2 separate regions of the Homo sapiens genome follow, and region 1 is linked to region 2. Evidence: fine-mapped expression QTL. A gene starts in region 2. The other region holds a variant in brackets. All regions are shown on one strand. Distances are from middle to middle.

Evidence for each region.
Region 1: its variant is fine-mapped to the expression of LINC01772 in esophagus mucosa (GTEx, PIP 0.97).

The regions. Positions count from the first base shown.
Region 1 is chr1:16,422,968-16,432,165 of GRCh38, reverse strand. It overlaps SPATA21 (spermatogenesis associated 21), which reads left to right. Exons shown (of 13, transcript NM_198546.1): 3 at 744-828. The coding sequence starts at 795. Among named protein-coding and RNA genes, the nearest start is that of SPATA21, 9.9 kb to the left of the region's middle. The variant G/A (reference allele first, on the strand shown) is at 5,512.
Region 2 is chr1:16,456,442-16,465,639 of GRCh38, reverse strand. It overlaps LINC01772 (long intergenic non-protein coding RNA 1772), which reads right to left and starts at 4,692. Exons shown (of 2, transcript NR_147210.1): 1 at 2,353-4,692. It overlaps NECAP2 (NECAP endocytosis associated 2), which reads right to left. Exons shown (of 8, transcript NM_018090.5): 8 at 5,562-6,798. The coding sequence ends at 6,750.

The DNA.
Region 1 (9,198 bases), 33 kb after region 2:
TGGGCAACAGAGCGAGACTCTGTCTCAAAACAAACAAAAAAAAAAAAAAAAGAAGAAGAAGAAGAAGAAAAGAAAAAGAAAAAGAAAGGATGTGTCCAGGGCAGGGTGTGGGTGCTTTGGTGAACTGCAGATTGCCGCTGGAGACTTTGGGGCCCTGAGACAGATGGACAGATGTCCCTAGTTCTTGTTCCTTAGCCCCATCTAAGAACATGGAGTTTTCATCTATAGCAGGAGCAGCTGTGACATTCTTGGACTCTCTTTAAAAGGCACATTAGTATTTTAAAGGCTCTGAGAAGTTGTACAGGAAAGAGCCTGTATCATTTCGCTCATCACAGCACTTTCCAAAGGCATTTAGCCTTGGAACCCCTTGGAGCATCTGAAGGGACCAGTATGCCAAAGAATACCCTGTAGGAAATGTCGCCGTCGGGGAAAGCGCCTGGGTTTTGGGATTCAACAGGCCATGGTTCAAATCCTCGTCTGCGACCTAGCAGGTGTTAGATCTTGGGCAAGTCTTGTGCCTTCCAGAGCCCCTTTTCCTCAGGGTCATAGTGAGAACTAGGAAAAGCGTATGGGTAAATGGCATGTGGCTAGCTCTCTGGTTTTGCTGCGTGCCTCTCCTTGCAAGGCCTGGCCCCGCCTCTTCCCTCGAGCCAGGCTGTCTACATTATAGGCTCCAAGTGGGCTCCTGAAGCAGCAGTTAGGTGATGGGCTTGGTGGGACGCTTGATTGGATTTCTCCTGTAGGAGCACACTAGGTGATGCCCCTCACTTGGCACCCGTGTTGGCGCTGGCATCATGGACAATAGAAACACCCAGATGTACACGGAGGGTAGAACCAAGGCTCCAGGGACGCAGCCAAGTCCTGGCCTGAGGATCACCATAAAGAGGGCTGGTGTTGAGCCCATCATACCAGGAGTCAGCAAGGTAGGGACCTGCACCCCATGTTCTGATCCATTCACTCCTAGCTGGCACCTTTCCCTTCCCCTGCCCAGGCTTCCTCCCCAGCTGCTTTAATTAAGACTCTGTTAAAAATGGACACAAAACCCAATTCAAACTGGATTAAGCAGAAAAGAGAATATATCAGTTTGGGTAACTGACACATGCCTTCATAGACTTCAGGTATGGCTAGATCAATGTGCTAAATGAGTATCTCTTGGCTCTATGTTCCTCCGTGTTGGATTCATTCTCAGGCAAGCTCTCCCTGCAAGATGGCAGGGATTGCCCTGGCCACTCCAGGATTACATCTTCCCATCTTACACCCTCTGGTTTAGCATTCCAACAGGAAGTGAGCCTCTTTGCAATAGTTGAAACAAGTCTCTAGCATCACTGTCATTGGCCCAGATTGTGGTCAGATGCTCATCCTTGAACCAATCACCATGGCAGTGGGGAGTGGTCTGGATCTCTTGATACAATGGAGACAGAGGTGATAGGTGGCTCCACTGAGCCCCATGGGCTGAATGGAGAAGAGAAGCTTCCCAAAAACAATGCTGGCTTCTGTAACGGAAAGAGCTGCAGGGTGAGCAAACCCAGAATTGCCTACTCGCTCTTCTAGGTGCCTTGCATGGCCTCCAAACTCCCCTCACAGCCTCCAGCCCAGCTTTATTCTCCTGAGAGCTACTCAGGGCTTCCCTCCATGCCCCTCCCCAGAGCCCAGCCTGCATCCTAAGCTTCCATCACACCTCTCAGCCTCTTTCCATCAAATATGTTTATTAGTTTGTTTGTTTGTTTATTTTTGAGACAGGCTCTCACTCTCTCACCCAGACTGGAGTGCAGTGGTGCGATCACGACTCACTGCAGCCTCGAACTCCCAGGCTTAAGCGATCCTCCTGCCTCAGCCTCCTGAGTAGCTGGAACTATAGGCGTGGCTTGTGCCACCATACCCAACTATTTTTTTAATTTTTTGTAGAGACAAGGCTTTATCATGTTGCCCAGGCTGGTCTTGAACTCATGGGCTCAAGTGATCTGTCTGCCTCAGCCTCCCAAAGTGTTGGGATTACAGGCATAAGCCTCCGTGTCCGGCATCTTCTTTTTTTTTTTTTTTTTTTTTTTTTTGAGATAGAGTCTTGCTGTCACCCAGGCTGGAGTGCAATGGTGTGATCATGGCTCACTGCAACCTCTGCCTCCTGGGTTCAAATGATTTCCGTCTAATTTTTTTTGTATTTTTAGAAGAGATGGGATTTCACCATGTTGGACAGGCTGGTCTTGAACTCCTGACCCCAAGTGATCCGCCCACCTCGGCCTCCCAAAATGTTAGGATTACAGGCGTGAGCCACTGCGCCCCACTGGCCTCTTTTTGAATGTGCCAAGTAGCATGAACTGAAGAGCATAAAGAAGACCCTCCTCACCATCCAGTTTCCTCAGGGCCAAAGATATCACCATTTAAAAAGTCAGCCAGCCGGGCGCGGTGGCTCACGCCTGTAATCCCAGCACTTTGGGAGGCCGAGGCGGGTGGATCACCTGAGGTCGGGAGTTCAAGACCAGCCTGACCAACATGGAGAAACCCAGTCTCTACTAAAAATACAAAATTAGCCTGGCATGGTGGTGCATGCCTGTAATCCCAGCAACTTGGGAGGCTGAGGCAGGAGAATCGCTTGAACCTGGGAGGTGGAGGTTGCGGTGAGCGGAGATTGCACCATTGCACTCCAGCCTGGGCAACAAGAGTGAAACTCCATCTCAAAAATAAATAAACAAACAAACAAACAAATAAATAAAATACAATACAATAAAATAAAAAGTCAGCCAGGTGCCATGGCTCACGCCTGCTCCCAATACTTTGGGAGGCAGAGATAGGTGGATTGCTTGATCCCAGGAGTTAAAGACCAGCCTGGGCAACATCGTGAGACCCCGTCTCAAAAAAAAAACAAAGCCAGGCGCGGTGGCTCACGCCTGTGATCCCAGCTCTTAGGGAGGCAGAGGCGGGAGGAGAGCTTGAGTCCAGGAGTTCGAGGCCTGCCTGGGCAATATAGCGAGACCCCGTTCTCCACAAAAAGGAAAAGAAAAAAAAAGCCAAAAAAAAAAATAAAAAGTCAACATGCCCTTGGGTATGTTCCCTGTAGCCTCTGTTATAAATCCTCACTTCCCCTGGGGCAGGGAGAGGGCCTGGAGGGGAGGAGGCTAGGAGAGAGGCTAGAGGTGAACATTCAGGGCTTCCTTCATCCACCCATTTATTTTTTCAACAAGCACCGTCATGGGGTCCCAGTCCCACCACTTACCCAGCTGTGTGATGTTGGGCCTGTCACTGCACCCCTTGCAGCCTCATTTGTTTTACGGTGTTGACTAAGGCACCTAGCACAGGCCCTGTCTCATAGTAGGTGCCTGTTAGTATTAGCTCACATCAGAATCTTGTATTATATCAATGTCAATGAGTTAATTAAGTCCATTTGTTTGGAGTTTGCTGACTCCGGTGATGCTTGGAGCGGGGTCTCAGTCACTGGCTCCAGGTCACCCAGTTGGAGAGTGACAGACCATGATAGTGATCAAAACCCAGTTCAGGCCAGGTGCGGTGCCTCATGCCTGTAATCCCAGCACTTTGGGAGGCTGAGGCAGACGGATCACTTGAGGTCAGAAGTTCGAGACCAGCCTGGCCTACAAAAAAAATAAAAAAAAAAAATTAGTTGGGCATGGTGGCGCACACCTGTAATCCCACCTACTCGGGAAGCTGAGGCACAAGAATCGCTTGAACCCAGCAGGTGGAAGTTGCAGTGAGCCGAGACTGTGCCACTGCACTCCAGCCTGGGCAAAGGAGGGAAACTCTCTCTCAAAAAATGAAATAAAAACTCAGTTCAAACTAGAGCCTGCGTTTTGAAGGCATGGGAATTGTTGAAGGCGTCTCTTGGACCTTGTGAGAGTCTTGGGGTCCCCCAGGGTGCTCTTTCAAGCTGTCCTTAAGGCAATCCCCTTGTCTCGGGTACTAATCTGGACTCCAGTTCATACCAGAGCCTTACGTGCTAAGCAACAGCAACAGCAGGGCCGGGCCCTGCATCCCTGCCTCTCAGCTCCTGCTCACCCCTCTCCAACAGCTTCCCCAATCAGGCACAGGATCTCCCTGTCCTTGAGGCCAGAAGAGTACCCAGGGAGGAGTGGGAGGGATCACTCCAGAACGGGTACTCAATGCCAGCCCTCAAGCCACTGCCATGGATATCTCTGTCCAGGTCATGTTTCCGGATGCTTCGGAAGTGGGCAGCAAGAAGCACCTCTCATCAGCTTCACGAGGGCCAGAGAAGGGGCCCAGACTCAGAGATGCATTTGAGAAGGGGCCTTCAGAGCTCAGAATCCAGGAGCAGGGGCCTCCAGCAAGACCAGGGTGAGCTGAGGGGCTCTCGAGAGAACAGGTCCAAGAGAGAACCCCCTGTAGCCCACCCGCGGGGGAGAGAGAGAGAATGGAGAACTCCCAGGCCAAGGCAGCTCCACCCACGACAGCACCTTGTCCTTCTCTTTCATTGCACCAGTTGCACTAAAGAGTTCATGTTAACCTTTTGTCTGAACTCCCCCAACGAGACCACAAACATCTTTTATGTGTCTTGTTTGAGGAGCATCATATACCTGGTTCAACCTCAAAGCCCTCATGCCTAGTACTATGCCTGACACATAGTAAATGTTCGATAAATATTGATTCACTGAATTAATAGAATAATGAACAAAAAAAGGTTAGGAGACACAGGAACATGTAAAGATGTACACGTAATTGTTTTCTAAATTTTGTGTTTTTTTAAAACTTTTCTACAGCAAGAATGTATTCAAAAAGAGAAAATCAAGAGCGAGCCAGATAGAGGCAAAGTGAAAGGCTGGGATAATAGAAATAGTAAAGACTAGCTGGCTTAGTTGGATTTGACTATAACCAGAAGCTCCTAAATAGCCTCCTCTACAAGAAAAGTTAGGAGAGACAACTCAAGCCAGGTCCGAGGCCCACTGAGACAACTACTGCATACCATGCCGGTGGAAATAGAAACCATTTAAGCATACCTGTTTCATCAACGTGGCAATTTGTTTAAACTGCCTTGAAACTCCCTTTATCCTCACCCATTTCTGGAAATAGGCCATGAGGAAATAATTGGTGATTCAAGCAGTTTTATGCACAAAGACTTTCACTGTCACATTATCTTAAATACTAAAAAATTAGAAACCCCTTAAGCGCCCACACAATAGGGAAATGGTTAATGATGGTTATCTTTAAAATATGGAATTTTATACATTTAATGAACATAAGAAAACATATAAAGCATGTTTCTGAAGGATTTTTAGCATGCGAAAAACACAGGCTATGATGTTAATTGAAAAAAGTACATTAGGCCGGGCACAGTGGCTCACACCTGTAATCCCAGCACTTTGGGAGGCCAAGGCAGGTGGATTACCTGAGGTCAGGGGTTTAAAACCAGTCTGGCCAACATGGCAAAACCCCATCTCTACTAAAAATATAAAACTAGCTGGGCATGGTGGCACATGCCTGTAATCCCAGCTACTTGGGAGGCTGAGGCAGGAGAATCACTTGAACCCAGGAGGCAGAGGTTGCAGT[G/A]AGCCAAGATCACTCCACTGCACTCCAGCCTGGGCAACAAGAGCAAAATTCTGTCTCAAAAAAAAAAAAAAAAAATATATATATATATATATATATAGCCGGGCACCATGGTTCACGCCTGTAATCTCAACACTTTGGGAAGTTGAGGTTGGCGGATCACTTAAGCCCAGGAGTTCAAGACCAACCTGGACAACATGGTGAAACCCCATCTCTACAAAAAATATGAAGATTGGCCAGGCATGGTGGCATATGCCTGTAGTCCCAGCTACTTGGGAGGCTAAGGCGGGAGGATTGCTTGAGCCCAGGAAGTGGAGGTTGCAGTGAGCTGAGATCATGCCACTACACTCGAACCTGGGTGACAGAGCAAGACTCTGTCTCAAATAAATAAATAAATAAATAAGTATGCATACGCATAGGAAGAAGCTTGGAGGAAATACTCCAGAATACTAAAGTGAGATCGGATAGACACAGCTTCAAATTTTGAACAGTTATCTTTAGCTTTATGACCTTAGGCTCAAATCTCTTGTCCTCTCTGCATCCCAGTTCTGATTTTTGTTTCATTTTTTTCTGAAAAACAGTTTAAAAATACTATAAAACTTAAATTCTAGGCTGGATGCAATGGCACGTACCTCTAATCCCAGCACTTTGGGAGGCCGAGGTCGAAGATTGCTTGAGCCCAGGAGTTCAAGACCAGCCTGGGCAACACAGAGAGACCTTGTCTCTACAAATAATTGTGAAAGTTTAAATTTTAACTCCCCCAAACATTGACATCAAAGTGTCTATGATTTGGGGAATTCCTGTGAGTCCTTCATTGGTCCTTCCAGGCGTTAGCTATGCACCTATGGTATGCCTAGCCCTGTAAAAATATATAAAACAGTGCCCCAGTCTGGGAGCTAAAGTGTCACTTTGTCTATTTTCCCCAGGAAGAAACAGCCCTCTTGGGTCCCCCAGGAAGGGTCCCAGGAGCTGCAAGCAGGCCAGGATCAGAGTGAGCTGGGGTTGCTGCCTTCCTGGGTTCCTGAAGTACCTGAAGGGCTGCAGCAGCTGGGCTCCGGAAAGGAGATCAAGGGCCAGCAGGGGAGGCAACGGAACCGGGGAATCGGGGAGGATCAGCCTCCTGAGAGCTGCCAGGTAACCTAGGAGATCTGGGGAGAAGGGTATGGAATGACCTACCACAGAGGAGGTGAAAGAGCCCCCCTCCTATCATGCCCCCCATTCTGGTGCATGTATCTGTAGTCCCAGCTACTTGGGAGGCTGAGGCAGGGGTGATCCCTTGAGCCCAGGAGGTCAAGGCTACAATGAGCTATGTTCAGGCCACTGCACTCCAGCCTGGGTGACAGAATGTTTGCTCACCTCTGTGCCCTGAAGATGTCAAGCACTCAGTCTGTGGGTCACTGGGCTATTCCCCCAGCCTACATCACAAGCATTTAAGTCTTGTTTCCAGGCCGGGCATGGTGGCTCACGCCTGTTAATCCCAGCACTTCTGGAGGCCGAAGGAGGCAGATCACCTGAGGTCAAGACCAGCCTGGCCAACATGGTAAAACCCTGTCTCTACTAAAAAATATAAAATTAGCCGGGTGTGGTGGCACATGCCTGTAATCCCAGCTACTCAAGAGGCCGAGGCAGGAGAATTGCTTGAACACGGGAGGTGGAGGTTGCAGTGAGCTGAGATCGCGCCATTGCACTCCAACCAGGGCAATGAGAGCAAAACTCCGTCTCAAAAAAATAAAAATAAAATAAAAATAAGTCTTGTTTCCAGAGTGGCCCCACGGTATGTCAATGGGTGCAGGGGGGAGGGAGGAGGTGCCAGGTTCTGTATACAGATAATATTGGGACATGCTGAGTTTAACAAAGCTGAAACAGGTTTCTGTATGCTAGGATATCCTGGAAGCAGTTTACTAGCTGCTGAGCCTTTGTAAGATTTTGCAAGATATGATTAGAGGCCAGGCGCCGTGGCTCGTGCTTGTAATCCCAGCACTTTGGGAGGCTGAGGTGGGAGGATTGCTTGAGCCCAGGAGTTTGAGATCAGGGCAACATGGTGAAACCCCGTTCCTACAAAAAATACCAAAGTTAGCTGGATGTGGTGGCACATGTCTGTGGCCCCAGCTACTCCAGATACTGAGATGGGAGGATCCCCTGAGCCTGGGGTCCAGGCTGCAGTGAGCCAAGATCACACCACTGTGCTCCAGCCTGGGTGACAGAGTGAAACCCTGTCTCAAAAAAAATAAAAATAAAAAAATAAATAAAAAATTTTAAAAAGATATGGTTAGAGTATATTGCCTTTCCCAAACTTATTTGACCACAAGATCTTTTTTTATTTATCTGTAAGATTTTTTTTTTTTTTGAGACAGTCTTGCTCTGTCGCCCAGGCTGGAGTGCAGTGGCGCAATCTCGGCTCACTGCAAGCTCTGCCTCCCAGGTTCATGCCATTCTCCTGCCTCAGCCTCCCAAAGTGCTGGGATTACAGGTGTGAGCCACCGCACCCAGCCTGGTAAGATTTATTTTTAACAGCTTCAGTAAGGTATAATTGGCATTCACTTGCACATACTTTAAGTGTACAATTTAATATTTTGACATATGTACACACCCACAAAACCATCCCCACAATCAAGAAAGCAAACATAGCCATCACCCCAACCATTTCCTCATGCCCTTTCTCATCCCCCCTCCCACTAGTCTATCCCCAGGCGACTACCAACTATCACTATAGATTTGTTTGTATTTCGTGGAATTTTACACAAATGAAATTGTACAGTGTACATTCTTTCTGTCTGGCTTCGTTCACTCCACATGACTATTTGAGATTCATCTAGGTCGGGTGCGGTGGCTCAGCCTGTAATCCCAGCACTCTGGGAGGCTGAGGCGGGTGAATCACCTGAGGTCAGGAGTTCAAGACCAGCTTGGCCAACCTGGTGAAACCCCGTCTCTACTAAAAATATAAACATTAGCTGGGCATGGTGGCAGGTGCCTGTAGTCCCAGCTACTCGGGAGGCTGAGGCAGGAGAATCACTTGAACCTGGGAGGCGGAGGTTGCAGTGAGCTGAGATCATGCCAGTGCACTCCAGCCTGGAGAACAGAGTGAGACTCTGTCTCCAAAAAAAAAAAAAAAAAAAAAGGAGAGAGAGAAAGAGAAAGAAATTCATGTATTGTGTGTATCAACATGTTGTTCTTTTGGTTGCTCAGTAATATTTCCATTCTATGGATATACCATAATATACCACTTTTTTTTTTTTTTTTTTTTTGACATGGAGTCTCACCCTGTTGCCCAGGCTGGAGTGCAGGGGTGTGATCTTGGGTCACTGCAACCTCCACCTCCTGGGTTCAAGTGATCCTCCCACCTCAGCCTCCTGAGTGGCTGGGATTACAGGCACGTACCACCACGCCCAGCTAATTTTTGTGTTTTTAGTAGAGACAGGGTTTCACCATGTTGGCCAGGCTGGTCCTGAACTCCTAATCTCGTGTGATCCACCCACTTAGGCCTTTATTATTTTTTTTCAAGAGACAGAGTCTCACTCTGTCGCCCAGGCTGGAGTGCAGTGGTGTGATCATGGCTTACTGCAACCTCCACCTCCTGGGTTCAAGTGATTCTCGTCCCTCAACCTCCCAAATAGCTGGGATTACAGACATGAGCCACCATGCGTAGCTAATTTTGTGTAGAGACAGAATTTCTCCATGTTGGCCAGGCTG
Region 2 (9,198 bases):
AGCAAGCTAATACACAGGTAGACTTGTTTTGAGACGAAGTCTTGCTTTGTTGCCAGGCTGGAGTGCAGTGGCACAATCTCGGCTCACTGCAACCTCTGCCTCCTGGGTTCAAGTGATTCTCCTGCCTCAGCCCCCCGAGTAGCTGGGACTACAGGCGCATTCCACCACGCCCAGCTAATTTTTAGAAGAGGCGGGGTTTCACCTTGTTGGCCCGGATGGTCTTCATCTGTTGGCCTCGTGATCGGCCCACCTCAGCCTCTCAGAGTGCTGGGATTACAGGCGTGAGCCACTGCACCCCGGCCAGGTAGACTTCTAAGATGGCTCTCAATGATCCTTGCCTCCTGGTATCCACACCCTCCACTTAGTGCGGACAGGACTTGTGACTTCTACTCTGAAGACCCAGCCAAGGGATGGGATCATTTCTGGAATTAAAACTATGACTGCTATCTTGCCACAATCACGTTTGCTGGCTTCAATGAAGCAACTGCAAAGATGTGAACTATGCAGAGGCCTACGTGGAAAGAAAATGAGAGTGACCTCTGTCCAACAGCCACGAGGAACAGAATCATGCCCAAAACCACGTGAGCGAGCTTGGAAGCAAACGCTTTCCCTGCTGGGCCTTAAGATGACAGTGCGGCCTCGACTGACACCTTGACTGCAGCCTGTGAGAGGCCTGTGACCCAGCTGAGCTGCACCAGATTCCTGACCACAGAAGCGGAGATGACAAATGCAGGTCATTTTGGGCGGGTGTGGTGGCTCATGCCTGTAATCCCAGCACTTTGGGAGGCTGAGGTAGGCGGATCACCTGAGGTCAGGAGTTTGAGACCAGCCTGGCCAACAGGATGAAACCTTGTCTCTACTAAAAATACAAAAATTAGCCAGGCATGGTGGCGGAAGCCTGTAATCCCAGCTACTTGGGAGGCTGAGGCAGGAGAATCGCTTAAACCTGGGAGGTGGAGGTTGCAGTGAGCTAAGATTGCACCATTGCACTCTAGCCTGGGCAACAAGAGTGAAAATCTGTCTCAAAAAAAAATAAAAATACAAATAAATAAAGTACCTACTTACAGGCTTTGTATGGTTGGCTAAAAAAAAAAAAAAAAAAAAAAGAAAAAAAAAAAAAAACAGTATCTGTCTACATTCAAGCTGCGGTGAGGAAAAATTGGTCTTTTCCCTACTCCAGTCCACTCAGTCCACAGAGCATGGTATCTTTCTCACTCCCAGCTCATAGAAATCGACAACTATTAAGCACCTACTGTGTGCCCATGATGCATTTCAGTAGCTTTCAATCACCAATGGAATAAAGCCCCACCCTTCGCCTGTCATTCCTACTTGCCACGGCTTTCGTAAGCCATGTGGAGGGAATGGGACTTTTCATATATTAAGGGGGTCTTATGTGCCAGGCTTTGCAGGGAGCACTGCTCCAAAGAAGTAGCCACCCTGACTAAAAGCATGGATGCTGGAGCCAGACTGCCTGGGTTCAAATCCCAGCTCTGCCACTTACCAACCATGTGACTTTGAACAAATTATATAATTTCTCTGCATTTCTCATTTTCGAAACAGGGATGAGTACTGCTATAAACATTTGTGTCCACCCCCACCTCCAAATTCATACTGAAACCTAACCCCTAGTATGATGGTATTTGGAGGTGAGTTCTTTGGAAGGTAATTATGTCATAAGCGTAGAGCCCTCACAAACAGTATTGCCCTTATAAGGAAGCCCCAGCCAGGTGTGGTGGCTCACGCCTATAATCCCAGCACTTTGGGAGGCTGAGGCAGGTGGATCATGAGGTCAGGAGTTTGAGACCAGCCTGGCCAATAAGGCAAAACACCATCTTGACTAAAAATACAAAAATTAGCTGGGCGTGGTGGCATGTGCCTGTAGTCCCAGCTACTTGGGAGGCTAAGGCAGGAGAATTGCTTGAACCCAACAGGCAGAGGTTATAGTGAGCCAAGATCACACTCCAGCCTGGGCAATAAGAGCAAAACTATCTTTAAAAAAAAAAAAGGCAGTGCCATTCCCATGTGGTGGCTCATGCCTTTAAGCCCAGCACTTTGGGCGGCCAAAGCAGGAGGATCACTTGAGGCCAGGAGTTTGAGATCAGCCTGGTCAATATAGCAAGACTCCATCTCTTAAAAAAAAAAAAAAAAAAAAAAAAAAGTCCCCAGAGTACTCTATTGCCCCTTCTACCATGTGAGGTTACAGCAAAAAGACGGCCTCACCAGACACCGAATCTGCTGGTGCCTTGGACTTCCCAGCCTCCAGAACTGTGAGCAAAAAATTTCTTTTGTTTATAAACTACCCAGGCTATGTTATTCTGTCATAGTCCCAAATAGACTAAAACAAGTACTTACTGGCCAGGTGCGGTGGCTCACACTTGTAATCCCAGCATTTTAGGAGGCCAAGGCAGGCTGATCACTTGAGGTCAGGAATTTGAGACCAGCCTGGCCAACATGATGAAACCCCGTCTCTACTAAAAATCAAAAAAATTAGCCGGAAGTACTGGCACACGTCTGTAATCACAACTACTCGGAGGCTGAGGCAGAAGAACTGCTTGAACGCAGGAGGCAGAGGTTGCAGTGAGCTGAGATCATGCCACTGCATTCCAGCCTGGGCCACAGAGCGAGACTGTCTCAAAACACAAAAAAAACAAGTCCTTACCTCATGGGGTTGTAGAGATGATGCAATGAGTTTTATAAGTGCATAGAATAGTGCCTAGCAGAGAGTTAAGCATTACTTTAGCAATAAACAATAAGCATTACTTAAAGGCAACAGGAAGGCCCAAAGGAGCATCATAAGGGACCTCCCAAGGCCCTACAGCTATTAAGTCTATCCAGATTCTCTCTTTTCCACACTGATTCCCACCTCAAACACACTTTGCTAACCTTTGTGTTGGTTATCTATTGCTGCATAACCTTACCAGAAACTTAGCGACTTAACACAATACATTTACCATCTGTTCCTATGGGACAGTCTGGGCACAGCTTAGCTGGTCCTCTGCAAGGCTGCAGTCAGTGTTGGTCAGGCCTGGGGTCTCACCTGAAGGCTTACCTGGGAGTGATCAGCCTCCAAGCTTGTGTGGTTGCTGGCAGCATTTGCTTTCTTGCAGACTGCTGGACTGAGCTTCAGTTTCTTGTTGGCTGTCAGAGGCTACCTCAGTTCCTAGCCACCTGACCCTCTCCCAAGGGCAGCTCACACAACATGACAGCTTCCTTCTTCAAAGCCAGCAAGAGAATTTCTCAGCAAGGCAGATGTTGCAGTCTTACATAAGGCAACCATGAAAATAACATCTTGTCACCTTTGTGGCACTCTACTGGTTAGCAGTCACAGGTCTAGGCCATCTCAAGGGGCAGGGAGTACATAAGGCTGTGAACAGCAGGTGGGGATCACAGTGACCACCTGGGAGTCTATCTGCCACACCTCCCAGTGCATCCAAATTCTGTTGTGCAGAGGGCAAGTGAGGTCTAGCATACCCCCCAAGAAAGCAGCCATCTTCTACCATCCACCCACCAGTTTGTAAACTCCAGTCAGGGGTGTAATTGAAGTGATGCCTGGTTTGGGATTGAGTTTTCCTGGAGATTCTGGTCCTGTAATGAGTTTTTTCCAGCTGGGATTCCAGTTAGTGATGGACAGCATCAAGCTGTCCCTTGCTCCTGGCCCCAGACCCCACAAGGTGCTTTTCAGGCTAGATTCCTGAGGGCTGTGTCATCAGCTGTGCCACCTCCTCCTCCCTACCATGATGAACTGTTCTGGGTACTTACCTGACTCCAGAGAAAGGTCATTAAGGTCAAACAATGCAATGTGCATCTGCTAGTGCCTCATCCGAGTGACGCTCAGGTGAAGGAACAGCCTGTGGCCACACGTCTAACCAGGGGATAGCCTAGATCCTAAGGCCAGGTCTGTCTCCACAATCCAAGTGCTGATCTTCAATGGTACATACTTTTTTTTTTTTTCCTTTTGAGACAGTCTTGCTCTGTTGCCCAGGCTAGAGTACAGTGGCATGATCTCAGCTCACTGCAACCTCCACTTCCTGGAGGCAATTCTCATGCCTCAGCTTCTCAAGTAGCTGGGATTACAGGCGTGCGCCACCATGCCTGGCTAATTGTTGTATTTTTAGTAGACGGGGTTTCACCATGTTCGCCAGGCTGGTCTCGAACTCCTAACCTCAAGTAAGCCACCCACTTCGGCCTCCCAAAGTGCTGGGATTGTGGGCATGAGCCACCACACCCAGCCATGGTACACACTTCTAATAAAGCTTCCTCTACATCTAAGCTTTCTGATTTCCACCCTCCAAGTACTTAAAACTGACTCGATGTGAAGTAATGCTATGTGAAATCGACATAAAAAAGTTACTGCTCCCGAAGATCCTTTAATGCAATCTCCTTACCCTTAATTCAATGGGCAAGAGAATCTTCAATTTTCATTTTCTTTCTCCTCTCTACAGTTTCTTAATCAGAGTGGCTATTTCCATAACAATAAAAACTGCTTCTTACAGAATCCTCAGGCAAAAGAAGTGTTGTGGCTTTTTTTCATTTTTAATTCTTTTAGAGAATTCTCTAGGGTCTCACTGCTGCCTAGACTGGAGTGCGAGGCCGTGATCATAGCTCACTGCAGCCTCAAACTCCTGGGCTCAAGCAATTCTCCCACCTCAGCCTCGCAAGTAGTTAGGATTCCAAGCATGCACCACCACCACACTAATTTTTTTTTTTTTTTTTTTTTTTAAGAAATGGGGTCTAACAGCCGGGTGCCGTGGCTCACGCCTATAATCCCAGCACTTTGGGAGGCCAAGGCGGGCAGATAACTTGAGGTCAGGAGTTTGAGACCAGCCTGGCCAGCATGGTGAAACCCCATCTCTACTGAAAAAATACAAAAATTAGCTCGGTGTGGTAGGTGCCTGTAATCTCAGCTACTGGAAAGGTTGAGGTAGGAGAATCACTTTAACCTGGGAGGCGGAGGTTGTAGTGACCAAGATTGCTCCACTGCACTCCAGCCAGGGCAACAGACTGAGACTGTGTCTCAAAAAAAAGGAAAGAAATGCATCTTACTATGTTGCCCAGGCTGGTCCCAAACTCCCAGCCTCAAATGATCCTCCCGTCTTGGCCTCTCAAAGTGCTGGGATTACAGGCGTGAGCCACTGCACCCGGCCTCTTAATTTTACTTTTGACCTCTGGGTATCTGCACCCCTTTACTACTTAGGGAGATGCTCTGCCGGTAGGTTTGGTGGAAGACGGAAAGCAAGGGGCCAGGCTCTCTAGAACGGCCTGTATCATGAGACGCCACAAGAGAATTAAGCCCCACACAAAGTGATTCAAGCAACTACTTTCACATCAACCAAAGGATGATGAAAAGACTGTACTATCCTAGAGAACACAGGAGAGAAGGTACCGATTGCCTTAGACAACAAGGTTGCATTTCCTCACTTTGGCCAGCCTCACACCCCAGCCCTGAACTTTCAATCTGGACACTTGGTCAGTGGTGAGAGAAGTGGCCGTGAGTCTAGCTGTGGCACCCTGAAGAGTTTAACAGCCACGCGGCCAGAAACACATTCATCTTTCACATACAATGACAGAAGTAAAAATATTTATTTTATCTTAAAAATCTGGTCCCGCAAAAAGGCCAACACTTTTTTCAGTTCACGGTCTTGACCTTTCAAAGAAGAAATCTTTCAACTGAGAGGTGAGTTAATAAAAGGAATGTCAGAGGTGCTTTCAGATTTCTTATAAACCAGTAAACCAAGCAACCCTGGACTTCTAGTTTACTGAGCTCCTTCTTCTAGCCATTCACAGTTCCTGAAGGAGAAAAGAAGTTGTTTGCAGATAAGGCACTTTAGAAACCACCAAAGAGAAAACCCAAGTCTGCCAGGAGCTGCACTGTGAACATGTGAGCCGAGAGGGCCACCAGCAGACAGAGTGCCAACTCCCACAGCTCCATGACAACAGCATCCACCTTCCTGCCCCAACACTGTTCCGTCTGGCTTCCAGCACCCGCCTTGGCTCTGTGTTGCCTACCTGGCCTAGAATACATGGAAACCAGACAACTGGCCAGAGATAAACACTGCTGCCTGAAGCTCAGGGCAGCTGCCCACAGTGAGGAATCCCTTCAGAGGCCCCAGCTGGGGCACGCCGAGGGAGCAGTTCCTTTTGCAAAGATGAGTTAGTGCGGATCAGCACATTAGCAAAGCAAAATATTTAAACATTTTTAAAAGCTGCTAATCCTTCCAATTTCCCTCCTGATTGTAGCTCAAGCTGCAGCCTCTAAACCTGCTAAAAATCAGGAAGAAACCCCTCCTCTGGAGGGCAGATGGACTGAAGTGGCTACAGCCAGTGTGGGTACGGAAAGCCTCCCGCTGAACTGTGATCATGTGACACCTGCAGACCCTGGGAAGGGCTGATCTGAATCCTGGCAGCAAACTCAACCTCTTCTTTTGCTTGGGGGGCTTGTGTTTAATACAGGTCATTGCGATGGAAGAAGTCTCAGAGTCTCTCTCACATCAAGAGGACAGATGGGGACAGGGATCCTGGAGCTTTTCTTCTCCTGTGTTCTGGTTGCATACTTGAATCCCAGGAAACAGTGTGACACGGTGCCAATTTACTGCCAAACATGCCCGGTTTGTCAACAGAGCCAGACAAGGAGGAGAGGAGAGATTCATGCCCCAAACACAGGCCAGCTGAGGAGGGCTTCGTCCTCCTTCCTTTGGCCCAGATGAGGGAGCGCCTTCCCAGAAGTCACATGAGGAAAAACCGTGCTCAGGTCAGAACTGGACCCAGCCTGTGCCTGGCTGGGTCTGGCTGGAAGTTGATCTGTAAAGAGAAGACAGGGAAGGGTGGGGGAGTTCAGATCTTTGAAAATACAAAGCAGATAAAAGTTGGTTTCTCTCTGGACAGAAAAAGCTCTAAGAAGCCAGTTCCTAAATGTTCTAGAGCAGCAGTCAGCAAACTCTGGCACAGAGACCAAATCTGGCCCTCGATGGTTTTTTTTTTTTAAATAGTTAATGTAACTGTATTTACCAAAGTTTTTTGTTTGTGGTTTTGTTTTTTGTTTTGTTTTTTTTTTGAGACAGGGTCTCACTGTCGCCCAGGCTGGAATGCAGTGGCACACTCAAGGCCAACTATAGCCTCAACCTCTTGAGCTCAAGCGATCCTCCTACCTCAGCCTCCCTAGTAGCTGGAACTACATGACCGGTTAATTTTTGTATTTCTTTTAGTAGACACAGGGTTTTGCCATGTTGCCCAGGCTGGTCTCGAACTCCTGGCCTCAAGTGATCTGCCTGCTTTGGCCTCCCAAAGTGCTGGGATTACAGGCGTGAGCCAACATGCCTGGCCGAAGAGTCTTAACCCCTTTCCCATGTAGAAAAAATATAGCTCACTGCCAGCCCTCATTTAATTTTACATAAACATGCTCTTTGAGGCTGAAGCAAATCTGACTGATTTTCAACGTGAAAATAAAATATAAAAACTGTTCTTGGAGTTATTTCAGAATCATCTGAATAATCAGAACTATTTTGGAAAAATCAGACTCCTCAAATGAATCTTAGGCTAAAAACTGTTCAAGAACGATGTTAACATCACATGTAAGAATGCTGCGTTTTCTAGGATTTGACTTTTTCAGTAATCAATAATTACTATATTTTGGGCCAGGCATGGTAGTTCACGCCTGTAATCCCAGCACTCTGGGAGGCTGAGGTAGGCGGACTGCTGGATTCCAGGAGTTCCAGACCAGCCTGGGCAACATAGCAAAACCCCGCCTCTACTAAAAATACAAAAAATTAGCCGGGTGTGGTGGCAATTGCCTGTAGTCCCAGCTACTCAGGAGGCTAAGGGATAATCACCTGAGCCTGGAAGGTCAAGGATGCAGTGAGCCGACATCACGCCACTGCACTCCAGCCTAGGCAACCAGAGTGAAACCTTGTCTCAAAAAAAAAAAAAAAAAAAAAACAGAATTACTATATTTTGTAAATGGAAATACCACTATTAAAAACAGAATGCTATAAATAGAATGTCTTTTGTTCCAAAGCTGATATACTAGAGCGATGCAAAAATAATATAAAAGCAATACATTTTGTGGCAAAGTTATCTCAGGGTCAACGCTGCAGTCTGAAGTGCCACTGGCAAGTTTTCTCAGGGCAAACAGGAAAAGGGTTACAGTCCTCATTTCACGCCTCTGTTTTTTTTGTTTGTTTATTTGTTTTTTGAGATGGAGTCTTGCTCTTGTGACCCAGGCTGGACTAGAGTGGCATGATGTCAGCTGACTGCAATCTCCCGGGTTCAAGCAATTCTCGTGCCTCAGCCTCCCAAGTAGCTGGGATTACAGGCACCACCCCACCACGCCCAACTAATTTTTGTGTATTTAGTAGAGATGGGGTTTGACCATGTTGGCCAGGCTGGTCTTGAACTCCTGACCTCAGGTGATCCGCCTGCCTGGGAATCCCAAAGTGCTGGGATTACAGGCATGAGCCACCGCGCCCAGCCCATGCCTCTATTTTTGTAAATAAAATTTTACTGGCACACAGCCATGCTGATTTATTTACATATTGTCTGTGGCTGCTTTTGTGCAACAAGAGCAGAACTGAGTAGCTAGAACGAAGACCACACGGCCTGAATAGTCTAAACTATTTGCTATCTAGTCCTTTACAGAAAATGTGGCTGGGCACACTGGCTCGTGCCTATAATCCCAGCACTCTGGGAGGCCGAGGCAGGCAGATCGCTTGAGCCCAGGAGTTCAAGGCCAGCCTGCGCAACATGGCAAAACCCCGTATCTATGAAAAAATACAAAAAATAGCTGGCATGGTGATGTGCACCTGTAGAGCCAGCAACATGGGAGAATGTGGTTGCAGTAAGCCGTGATAGTGCCACTGCACTCCAGCCTGGGTGACAGAGAGAGACCCTGTCTCAAAACATGAAAAGAAAAAGAAAATGTGTGCTGACCCCTGTCCTAGAATCTGTCCATGTAAATAATAGTGCAGTAGGAATTTAGTATCTTTTCACCCTGGCCCCAAGTAAAGTCTTGAGATCTTATGGAATCAGAGAAGACAAGCCACCTAGCCTCAGGCGTTCTATGAGGATGGGCTGAGGCTGGAGCCTGGGTCTGAACTCTCAGTCCACTATTTTGGGGAAGGTGGGGGATGGGGTATAGAAGAAGGAGGTACTGGGGACAAGCCAAAGCACTTGGGAAGGCGGTTTAAAGGCCCAGATTTGCAAAGG